Linked DNA regions of Homo sapiens. The protein of the gene in region 4 interacts with the protein of the main gene of each other region in a pairwise test. Each region holds a gene or a part of one and is shown on either strand. Other genes may lie near its edges.

Region 1 (2,879 bases), on a different chromosome or scaffold from region 4:
TACATCTGAGACTAGAAAAGAAAACTATTGGAGATGGGGCATCTCTTAGTATGACAGAAATGTAAAGACCATATACTCCTACCTTCTAGACCAAGGGTATATGAAAGAAGGGACTATCTTTTTCAAAAGCTGTATTCTAACTTATGCCATACAGTAGGTTTTCAGTAAATGTTGGATGGATGGATGAAATAAATTGATTAATGGATGAATGTATCTAATCCAAAATTGTATCAGATTCCTTACTCTCCTGTCATTCACTAAGAAGATTAAATAAATCATTTGATTCCCATCACCTTCTTGACAAGAAATAATTAGACTTCTCAAAATCCTGAATGTACACTGTACATTCCTAAGAGAGCCTTCGCTAGCCTACCTATATTTTTAAATAAAATTTTCAAAGACAGGGACTGAATATTGTCCATTTTTCTGTCTCACACACTGCCCTCGTTCTTTTAAAAAATGACATTGTTTAAGTGTCTTCCTTGTGCCTTATCATGTGCAAAAGCCTCACTTGATGGAACCAACAATTCAGAGAGGAAGGTGCTAATAGGCCTGTTTTACAGTTGAGGATTTAGATTGTCTATATATAGTCTTTGAGGTCACTGGGCTCATAAACACAGAGCTCTTCTGATTCCAATTCAAAAAACTATTGGCTTATTTTAAAAACTGCCTTGTTACACAGTAGACATTTTAATTTCTAAGTGAAGAAGTTTAGTCACAATGATCATCACCACCAAATCTGAGGAAACCATCTTGATTCACTTATTAATCCTCCTAGCAGGGTTCTGCAGGCCACACAGCAACATGGGGTCAGGAATGAGGGCTGAGCAGAAGGGGAGGAGTGTATCCTAGGAAGGAAATGGTCTCTGACTCAATGCCACAAAGAAACCTGCCTAGCTGTGGAAGCAGGGCTTGGAAAACTATACTTGGGGATGGGAAGAAGCTGGAATAGCATACTTCCACAGGAAAGCTATGGCAAGGATCTCTGGTGTTCTCAGAAGTCACTCTTTGAGCCTTTGTCCAGGCACAAGCTCCTTAAGAATCCCCTGGCAGCTCCACGGGGACCAGCCTGGGGGGGGCTGTGACTGGTTAAAGCTCCTTTAGACCCCCTTCCCAGAGGGAGGTCTTGGGAGCTCCCAGTGCTTCCTTGGATTGTAGGGACAAGGAGGCAGGGGAATGTGAGGAATGACCCAGCACGTGCCTGGTTGTGCAAGAGCCACTTCCCGCTCTTCCCAGAGCCAAGCCTGAGCCTATAAAAGACATATTCAGCTCCAGCACCTCATCTGCTCTGACTTCCCCAGGACGTGTCTGTGCTCCTGTGTGTGACCAGGGTGAGTGGCAACCTGGGAGCCAGAGGGCACAGGGGAATGGGAAGATTAAGGGAGGCTTCAGAGAGTTATTTCTTTGATTCTGTGCTATTATATGCAGAAAAGAGATACAGTCTGACTTGAGTTTCTGGAAATCTTGCCTTGGGCTGTGAGAAATGTGTATCTGACAGTTTCATCAAGGGCTTATTCTTATATTTCAAAAATGGATACTTTGTTGGGTATGAATACTTTATTCAAGCTCATGAAGATTAGAAAATACTGCCTATCTTCTAAAAGAATAAGAAGCTTCTTATTATATCTGATTTTCAAGTATATATTTTCATTCAGCAGGATTTGTTTTCTTTCACTTGTTGATATATATGTGTGTATGTGTATATATATACACACACTGAGTATTATTCACCATCACCATATGATTTAGTTTTAAAAGAGATAAAATTGCCATCCTTGGTTTTTCACAGCTAAAGGGTTTGACTATTTCGAATTTCAGGTTGAAAAAGTCGCACTGAGATGTCCTGCCAGCAAAACCAGCAGCAGTGCCAGCCCCCTCCCAAGTGCCCCCCAAAATGCCCACCCAAGTGTCCTCCAAAGTGCCGACCTCAGTGCCCAGCCCCATGCCCACCTCCAGTCTCTTCCTGCTGTGGTCCCAGCTCTGGGGGCTGCTGCGGCTCCAGCTCTGGGGGCTGCTGCAGCTCTGGGGGTGGCGGCTGCTGCCTGAGCCACCACAGGCCCCGTCTCTTCCACCGGCACCGGCACCAGAGCCCCGATTGTTGTGAGTGTGAACCTTCTGGGGGCTCTGGCTGCTGCCACAGCTCTGGGGACTGCTGCTGACCAGACCTCGAACATCACAGAGCAACCCTTATGGAGAAACTTGCAACCAGGACCTGTCCCAGAGTGATGCTTCTCCTGCCCCTTTTTCTCCTTTCCTTGGGCTGACACACCTTGTGAGGTGTTTTGTCTGTTGTCATGGCCCAAGAGCCCATCCTGGATCCTGATCTTACCTTCCCACTTTACCTCATACAACAATAAAGCTCTTTTGCCTCTTCGTGAAGTACCCTGGCCATTGTCAATTCTTCTATTCTTTTCAAATCCCTTAAAGTCCAGTGCCCCAGCCGTACACTTTTAAGGATGCTTTGGTAGGAGTGGAGTGTGAGAAAGAGGTATGCTGGAAGCAGTCTCCAGAGGGTCAATCCTGAAAGAGCAGCCTCACAGTAGGGCTTCTCAATGGGACTGCCTGTGTGCACTTGGAGACTGTGAGATGTGGACCCTCTCAGCCCAGGCAGGGGCCTGAAGGGACTGACAGCCCCAGGGCTGAGAACCGCTGGCCATGTGCTGCTTGCTCAGTTTAACTCACCATGCTGAATGTAACTTATTTTCATTTTCTCTTCATACCATGATGACAAAGCTAGAAAAATCTTTGGTACTCCAAGCAAAAAGGTATATTTAACAGAATTCTTTTCATCTGATTTAAAATGCTTGGTATGAGAATCAGAACCCTTAGGGGCAAGTTTAAATGACAACTCATTGCCACTTAACTACTCTCCAGGGAGG
Region 2 (2,151 bases), on a different chromosome or scaffold from region 4:
TGCTCAAATATCACACACCTAAGATAGCTTCAGAGTGAATTTGACTTCTAGGTACTTAAAATTACCACCACTTTAATATTAAGGAATTATAGCTACTCAACTATTTAACAAGGAAGACTCAACAAAAATAAAAAAAAATCACTCTTTATCTTAAATTTCAGTATTTGCTGTCATTAACTAAGGCAAATACCAAATATCAAAATGAATATTGGTCTATTTAAGTAAAACTGAAAAACTTTACCCACATATTTTCCTAAGCTGTAAAATTCCACTTGCTTAAAAGAACACATTCATCTTTTCAAATAAGAAGAGGCAATAAGAAAAATAGACCAAAAAAAAAAAAGATAAACTTTGTCTAAGTATGAAAGCAAAAATCACTTCCTTAGTATCTTAAGGGCCTTACTTGACATGCTAAGGTCCTTAGTCTCCTGAGTTTCATGCCCACATTTAGGACAAGGAGGCTGTTTTCCTTTTTCTTGCTTAAACACTTTGCTCCTTGTATGATCATCACAGAAACAAGCCTGTATAGGAGAAGCAAAATAAAGTAAATAAATAAAAATGTAAAAATATACAAAAAGACAGTATTCAGTGTTTTAAAGATATAGCTTTATTAAGGCAGTGAGATTAACAATTTTGTTGGGAGCAGTCACACTTCTCATTTCATTTTCTTAACAGAAATGGTTTTTGTCAGGACCCTTCTGAACAATGATCTAACAAAAGGCAGACTATATTGAGTATGACATGTAAGTACATTTAGCTGTTCACAAATATTTCAGTACTCATAAGGTCCCTGATGAAATGAAATAATGGTGAACAGCCTATTTACTCTCACACAGTGTATGGTCTAACTAGGGATGGAGACAGTGAAAAGGCAATTACAAGACACTAAGCACTGAACGGGAAGTGCAGAGGGAAGGGCACTAAAGCAGACATGGGATTTGGGAAAGGCATCTTAGAGACACGAAGTCTTAATAGCCATATGAAGAATGGGAGGGCAATAGGGTAAGCCAAGATGGAAAAGTATTCCAGACAAAGAAAACACAGATAATGCCTGAACACCATTTGGTAAAACTAGAACAGAGTTGGAAGATAAATAAGACATAGGGTTAGGAATATAAGAACTAGAGAAACGCTTCTGAGAGGAAGGGCATTGGCTGCATCTGTTTAGTAATCTTTGACGAACGAATGCTAGAGACTAGGCCTAAGGACACAGAAAAATTTGGAAATCTTTACCCAAACTCTTCTAAGCAGGTATATTTTGACATTAATTAAAATAGACTCTCATCATCTTGGTCAGAATGTTCTCCACTAAAAACACAGAGCCAGGATTCCAGAGAAATGTGCACTAGCCACAGCTCTACTAAAAGGTGACTGGATGACCATTGGAAAGTCATGTAAGCTTTCTCAACTTCAATTCCACAGTCTCAAAAATAAAAGAATTAGACTACATAATTTTAAGGTCCCTTATAAATTAATTATAGCTGCATATAAGCCAAGGACTGGTGGAGGGGTATAGAGATTAAAAACAAAATCTAAAAAGAAAAAAACGCATTGGTATACCTTACAACGGAGACATGAGTGCTGACCAAGCCGATTGCATGAAACACCTGTGGGAAATAGATTAATTTTAAAATCCCGTTATTTGGTTCTTAGAATTTTCTTTTGTCTTTTATCAAATCACTAAAAGCTTGCAATGGAATATAGCCTTATAGACAGCTGCCTGTCTTTTGGGTTCAAATGCTATAAAACACACAAAGCTCCCATGCTGCAAATAAAATAATTAAATTTATTATTATACATTCTGCAAAAGGCGACGAAAGGCTCAAAAATGCTATATACTTCGAGATGCTCTTTTAATCTGAGAATTTTATATATAAATATTGCAAGAATTATATACACATGCATACACATTGTGTGTCTATGTGTGTGTAGTATGTATGTTGTATGTATATCACAGAGATGACTTATCTACTTTAAATTTATAAATAAGTATAATAATTAGGATTTCATACCAGAACAAGAACCAAATTAAAGGAAGAGAATACCTGGGGAATTTCGGTCTTTTTCCTATAATAGTAACTACTATTTAAAAAGGGCTTTTTAAATGCCAAGTACCACATGCTATTGTTTTATATGGTGTCTCATTTCAAT
Region 3 (3,500 bases), on a different chromosome or scaffold from region 4:
AGTTCTGGGATTACAGGCGTGAGCCAGTGTGCCTGACCACTCCTGTTTCTTTATAAATGTCACATGAGGATAGTAATAATCTCTAGCCCACAATATTTTTTTTTCTTTCTTTTTTTTTGAGACAGAGTTTTGCTCTGCAAATCTTGGCTCACTGCAACCTCTGCCTCCTGGATTCAAGCAATTCTCGTGCCTCAGCCTCCCAACGAGCAGGGATTACAGGCATATGCCACCATTCCTGGCTAATTTTTGTATTTGATATTGCTGTTTCTCATTGCCTGTAGACTAAAGTCCAAATTTCTTAATGCTGAATAAATGGCATTTCATAATTTTGATCCCTTACCTTTCCCACCTTATCTGCCACTACTTCCTATTCCCTCTGCACTCCAGCCACAACATACTTGCCATTTTTCTTGAATACACATTCTGTGTCTTTGTACTTTATTATCTTTTGCTGGACTATTTTTCCTCCTGAATTCCTAACCTCTGTACCAGCTATTTTTTACCTGTCAGACATAACACATCAACTAACTTGTAGCTCAAATATCACCATTTCAATCATTTCCTGATTCCTCCCAGCAAAGTAAGTTTCTTCCTCATCTATGCCCCTGGAAGACTTTATTCATAACTCTGTAGCACTTGTCATATTTAATTGCATTTATTTGCTTGTACTTATTTTTTTTTATTAGGCCTGAAATAGCTGAGAGTGAGGACTGAATTTTTTACCATTGCAGCGCCTGCTCCTGTCATAGTGCCTGATGTATAGTAGGCTCTCAGTAAATTTCAGTTGAATAAAAGCCTCTAAGCTCTTCCTGTAGGAGAGGCTGTATTATTTAGTCATGTATCTTGTAAGTTAGTATCATTATCCCCCTTTTACAGATTATAGAAGAAAAGATAATTAAATATTACCATAAAATAGAAGAGGTAACATTATGAGACACATTATGGCATTTTAGTTACTTAGCCAATTTCTGTTTATACCAAGTTTTAGAATATCAGTATATTTATATATTCATGCTCTGCTGTATTCACATTTTTTGAACTTCCAAATCTTATATTCATTGTAGAGAAAAGTTTGAGTAAATGAGAAAATGTTATTACCTCACCTCCCAGTTAGATTATAATTTTTTGTAAAAACAAACAAAAAGCTTTCTAAGGAAGACAGGTTTATAACAGGCAAGATACCGTTTTATTTGAACTCCAGATTTTGTTGACTTATATCCTTGTTCCCCTTAGGGTAATGATGCACCTGTTGAACAAGAAATTAACAGTGCAGAAACTTACTTTGAAAGTGCCAGAGTAGAGTGTGCAATACAGACATGTCCAGAATTGCTGCGAAAAGGTATGTCATGCTTTATACTTTGAAACACTGTTACTAATTTTTTTAATATGTTGAATAATGTACTCTATAGAAATTGGAACGCTGTATACCTTAATATTATATTTTACCGTATCTGGCTGGAAATGATTGCATGGCCAAGATAAAGGCTTTGAAATGTCCTGTGACATCTGACCTCATGCTGCCATTAGATAGGAAGAGTAAAATTTTTAATAACTTTTTTCCTAAGGCTAAATTAAAGTCATTTTTACTCCTGGGTGATTATTAGAGTTATAATTTTATGAGTTAATATAATACGGAAAAATCTTAACAGTAAGCATTTTTGAAAATTATATTAACCCCAAATAACGTGTAATCCTACTTACCCTTCAGGATTGTTGGTAGTAATATTTCAGTTCATCCAACAAAAGCAGAAGTAAACAAAACTAAGTGAATTTTACCCTTTTCAAAAATAACATACATTTATAAAAATTAACTAATACCACAGTAATTTTACTTAATCAGCATTTTTCTAAAGAAGTACTTTTATCCTTCTTTAAAAATTTGTTCTTTAAAAATCAAATTCTTTTCTACCTGGAATGTTTATTCTTATTTGTAGATTTTGAATCACTGTTTCCAGAAGTAGCTAATGGCAAACTAATGATTCTGACTGTAACACAAAAAACTAAGAATGATATGACTGTTTGGAGTGAAGAAGTAGAAATTGAAAGAGAAGTGCTCTTAGAAAAGGTAATTCTTTCAATTGCTAATAATTTAATTTTATGGTCATTATTTAAGTAATAGTGAACCAATGTCTTAAAATGATGACTGTCATTTCCACCCTTTATTCATTTTCTGCCAAAGTATTATAATACTAAAGGACTTACATCTTTTTTGAGAGTAAAAGTGCAGCTTTTTAGTATCCTTAAAAGTTTAGATTCTGTTTATTACTTTCCTCAATTTATTTTTAAAAAGTCTATTTTGGAAAATTTGGTAAATGACAAAAAGGTAAAATTAACTCTTTATCCTTCTCCCCTCAGCCTCCCCCTCCCTCTCCTTCTCCATCTCCCCCTTCATCTCCCCATCTTCCCCTCCAAATCTATCCCCTTTCTCCTGGGCTTAGAACATGTCAAAATAAAGAGTGAAAATTATGCCAGTTCTCTCCAAGAGTAAACAGTAACAGTATGCAGTACAATAATAGTGTAATAATGTATACCCACATTTTTTTCTGTGGTTTGCTTTTAACCTAAAGTATGCTTTGACATGTTTCCATGCTTACACATAGATATATTTCATTCTTTATAAAATCTGCATAGTATTAATATCACAGGGTAAACCATAAACTTTTTAATTTATTTAAGAATTTTAACTGGGTGCAGTGGCTCACGCCTGTAATTCTAACACTTTGGGAGGCTGAGGCTGGAGGATTGCTTGAATCCAGGAGTTTGAGACCAACCTGGGCACTGTAGTGAGACCCTGTCTCTACAAAAAAAATTATCCAGGTTTAGTGGTGCGCACCTGTAGTCCCAGCTACTCTGGAGGCTGAGGTGGCGGATCACTGGAGCCTGAGAGGTCGAGGCTGTAGTGAGCCTTGATGGTGCTACTGCCCTTCAGCCTGAGCGACAAAGTGATACCTACCATCTCTTATAAAAGAAGTTTCTTAGTCATTTATAAGTTTAAAATCCAACTTTTGCTATTATAGGCAACAAGCAGTGACAGTCTTTTTACAAATACTTTTATGCATGCTAATATCTATAGATTCCTAAATAGAGAATTGCTGAATCAGTGTGTATCTACATTTTAAATTTTGATAAGACACTTCCAATTTGCCCATCAAAAAGACTGTTCTAGTATATAAGCTGTCATGCTAGCTTACCCTGGGTGTTAGCAGTTCTTTCCAACTCAGGTTAGCTAAGGGGCCCAAGTCACTAACTTGAGTTAAAAAATCCCTTTAGTGATTCCTGTGTAGGATGTTAGGAAGTATTTTATATTTGGGATTAGATGTATGGTCTTTATTTGTAAAAGTATATTGTAATTTACATATTCAACAATATTATAATTTCACATTTAAATGTCACATAACTGCTAATAGATTTCGTGTGGTTTTTAACAATCACAAGCATATTAGTTATATACTAATTAACAAGGGAGTTATAGAGAGTTATAGGATATTTTCTATTTACAT
Region 4 (3,500 bases):
GGGTTTGTATCCTCTGGTCTTCTCAACATGGTTTTAATACATATCTCTTTTAGAATGAAGTGTCTATGTTGAAAAATGAGGTGGCCCAGCTGAAACAGTTGTTGTTAACACATAAAGACTGCCCAATAACAGCCATGCAGAAAGAATCACAAGGATATCTAAGTAAGTCGCCGACTTTTTCACTTTTCTTTAGTGTCCAATATTTTTTGCCACTAAGTTTGCACTGAATTTGATTGAAAGAGCAAAAGTAAAGTGTAGATTGTACTTCCAGGCAGATATACAAGAATTCTTGAGTGGCTTCCAGACTATTCTTCCAAGGGGATCCCTTTTTTCTGACCCCTGTGCAACACCATGCCCACCACCTCCTGATAATTTCTGGCCACTCCTTCCCTAGCATTTCAAAGTATCAAAAGAAATACCAAATTCCAATTTTGCAGCCAGTAAGAAAAGAGCCAGCTGAAGCCCAAGTACCAGTGGCCTAGCAGTCGCCTTCAGAAATCTGTGGTCTGGGAACCAGGCCTTGGGTGAATCATATCCAGTGCCTCCAGAAACACTGCATGTTACTCACTGGGCTGAAAAGCTAGTGACTGGCCTCAGTTTACCAATATGTAAAATGATCCCTTCCTTCAGACCCCAGTTTCTGCATCTGGAATGCCAGTTGGTTAAATGATAGTTGAGTAGGGATGGTGGGAGGAGCAGGGATTCATGGCTGAAGGTCAATTTATTTTCAAATAATTTTTTAGATTGAGCAACACAGATTCTCCCACCACATGTGAGTATTTTTCCACATTTGATATACGGATGGCTATTTAAAAAGACAAAATGGGGAAGTTCACATATCCATGACTGAAACACATCAAATCATTTTACTGATACAGAAAGCATGGCTTTGCTCGTAGATATAAACTGGAAAGGCATAGCATTGTGACAACAGTTGAAAATAAAGTTTTGAAATTAACTTTCAGAAGAAAATGTGTGAAACTTCTATTTCAAGTAAATATCTAGTACAGTTTCTCTGAGGAGTCCACAAGTCCATACAAAAAAGACCTATATTGGTGTGTGTGTATGTGTGTGTGTTGTCTTTTTTTTTCTCCCTAGGTCCAGAGAGTAGCCCTCCTGCTAGTCCTGTCCCAGCTTGCTCCCAGCAACAAGTCATCCAGCATAATACCATCACTACTTCCTCATCGGTCAGCGAGGTGGTAGGAAGCTCCACCCTCAGCCAGCTCACCACTCACAGAACAGACCTGAATCCGATTCTTTAAAATGCACCATCAGACCTGGCCTCCAAGAAGAGCTGTAGCGTACCATGCGTCCTTTCTTTTAAGGGCATTTTTAGAATTAACTCAGACCTGGAAGACTCCTCAGTTCTTCAAAGACTGGCTTTCATTTTTATAGTTATTATGGAAATGTTGTCTTTTATACTTAGTTATATAAGAAAAAAGGGAGTTATGCAATTAATATCTATCAGCTTGGGAAACGCTTTGGTGCTTTTCTCCAGTTTTCTGGTACCAGTTACTTGTTTATAAACTGAACCTTTTCTGTATATAGCCATGGTTTCATTCTTATCAGTCCAACCCTTTGCCTGAAACATTGAATCTTGTTAAACCACAGCTTTTAGCTAAAATGAGGTATACCTAGATGTCAAGTAAGACAGATCCAAGGTAACTGGGTAGGAAATCTTTTGACATCTTAACTCATGTTGAGTTTGTGCTGTGGTGTCACCAGAATTCCAGATAAACACACAGCCTTTCCCATACCTTTTTTTTTCTTACTATAAAATATTATAAGATCCATTGATGTCCAAATAATACCACCAAGCATCTCTTCACCTCTCCTCCTCTTGGTCCACTTGCTAATGCCCAGTTTTCTTCTCCATTTCCACTTTTTCTTAGGCTCCCTATTTACTATTCATTTTGACTTCCTTCTGTTTTATTTTTTTCCCTTTAGCATTGCATGTGAATAAGAAAATAATGTTTAAAGAAAAAAAAAAAAAAGCAAACCTCCAAAACGTGGACCTAACCATTGCTTCACTTACACTTCACCCACAGCTGGAGTTCATTCAACTCTTGCTTTTCACAAAATAGTAACCAGGAGATGTTTAATGTGCCTGATTTAATGTTTTTAATAATCACAGCAAATGAAAGGTGGTTTAGTTATAAGTGAAGCATGGTTGAATACCAGCTGGGGAGACACTAGGGAAGGGAGCTTTGTAAGCCTTGATTGCGAAAGTCCAAATTTTGATGTGGGGCTATAACATGACACCCTTGGATTGCGACTGGTTTTATACGGCCTGCCTATAACGTTGAAAATCCATGTACTACATAATAATTCAGAAGGGCTCTATTCACTACACAGATTACATTGTTCAATCATCAGCTGCTAATAGCCTAAGATTTATTTTTTTTTTTTTCTTAAGCCTATGGAACCGGCTTTGCTGTTCTGGGGGGTGAAAATAGACTAACTACTGGAGAAACAAAGAGAGAAAGAAAACCCAGTGTTTCCATAGGGGCACTTTTAGCCTTCCCACAACAGTTAAGCACTCTTTGACTGCTGAAGGAACCCCATGGATGAGGTGCAGGCTACTTCACTCTTTTTTTTTCTTTTTTGAGACAGAGTCTCACCTATTGCCCAGACTGAAGTGCAGTGGTGCGATCATGGATCACTGCAGCAGCATCCTCCGAGTTCAAGCTATCCTTCCACCTCCGCCTCCTGAGTAGCTGGGACCACAGGTTCACATAACCATGCCTGGCTAATTTATTTTTACTTTTATTTTAAAATAAAAGATGAGGTCTGTCTTATGTTGCCCAGGCTGGTCTCAAACTATCCTACTTCTTCCTCCCAAAGTGTTGGGATTATAGGTGTGAGCCACTGCACCCAGCCTACTTCACTCTTCTGAATTATTCTGATTTATTTTCAACAACTTTTGTGAACTTGCCCGTGATACAAAGCAGATAGTCCCTGAACCACAGTCGTGCCTCCTTGAAACAAGCCATTCTACTGTGCTAATGTTTTAATATCACATCTCACAAATAACAGGGGTGAATGTTTCTCTCTAGCAATCTAGGCAGGTGCTGGTGTTTCATCTCCATTTGAATGCTTGACCTCTTAATGTGTGTGTGTGTGTGTGTGTGTGTGTGTGTGTTCATGGGTTTTAAAAGAACAGTATTTTACAAAAGGTGTAGCTTTTATAAGAGTGCAGAAAAGGGAAGGATGTGTTTTTTTCTCTCACTATAGTATAAGAATCTATTTTGGAGAAAAAAAGAAAATATGAGGGTCTCGAAGCATGATTTTTATATAACTAGTTTCAGTTTTATCTAATAACTTACTTTTTAAATCAATATTTATCAACAATCTTTCCTTGTATGCAGTGCTTTCAAAAGATGGTTTTGAGTGTCCAGTGAAACTTATGACTTGGATATATGGTTGAAGAATCAAAACAAAAGCAAAAAAAAAAAGCAAAAAAAGAAAAGAGAAAAAAAGAAAAAATGCAAATGGAATAA

The links. Proteins that work in one complex are often made in the same cells at the same time.
Region 1: the proteins of CREB5 (region 4) and LCE2A interact in binary tests that used the Homo sapiens proteins (3 or more experiments, as listed by UniProt).
Region 2: the proteins of CREB5 (region 4) and ZNF330 interact in binary tests that used the Homo sapiens proteins (3 or more experiments, as listed by UniProt).
Region 3: the proteins of CREB5 (region 4) and MMADHC interact in binary tests that used the Homo sapiens proteins (3 or more experiments, as listed by UniProt).

What each region holds. Positions count from the first base shown.
Region 1 is NC_000001.11:152,697,064-152,699,942, forward strand, and holds LCE2A (late cornified envelope protein 2A), read left to right. Parts: upstream 1-1,281; 5' UTR 1,282-1,331; intron 1,332-1,818; 5' UTR 1,819-1,838; coding exon 1,839-2,159; 3' UTR 2,160-2,379; downstream 2,380-2,879. UniProt on the Homo sapiens protein: Precursors of the cornified envelope of the stratum corneum.
Region 2 is NC_000004.12:141,230,895-141,233,045, reverse strand, and holds part of ZNF330 (zinc finger protein 330), read right to left. Parts: intron 1,608-2,151; coding exon 1,561-1,607; intron 522-1,560; coding exon 404-521; intron 1-403.
Region 3 is NC_000002.12:149,574,276-149,577,775, reverse strand, and holds part of MMADHC (cobalamin trafficking protein CblD), read left to right. Parts: intron 1-1,233; coding exon 1,234-1,339; intron 1,340-1,934; coding exon 1,935-2,065; intron 2,066-3,500. UniProt on the Homo sapiens protein: Involved in cobalamin metabolism and trafficking. Plays a role in regulating the biosynthesis and the proportion of two coenzymes, methylcob(III)alamin (MeCbl) and 5'-deoxyadenosylcobalamin (AdoCbl). Promotes oxidation of cob(II)alamin bound to MMACHC.
Region 4 is NC_000007.14:28,818,018-28,821,517, forward strand, and holds part of CREB5 (cyclic AMP-responsive element-binding protein 5), read left to right. Parts: intron 1-53; coding exon 54-162; intron 163-743; coding exon of another isoform or gene 744-748; exon of another isoform or gene 749-967; intron 968-1,098; coding exon 1,099-1,262; 3' UTR 1,263-3,500. UniProt on the Homo sapiens protein: Binds to the cAMP response element and activates transcription.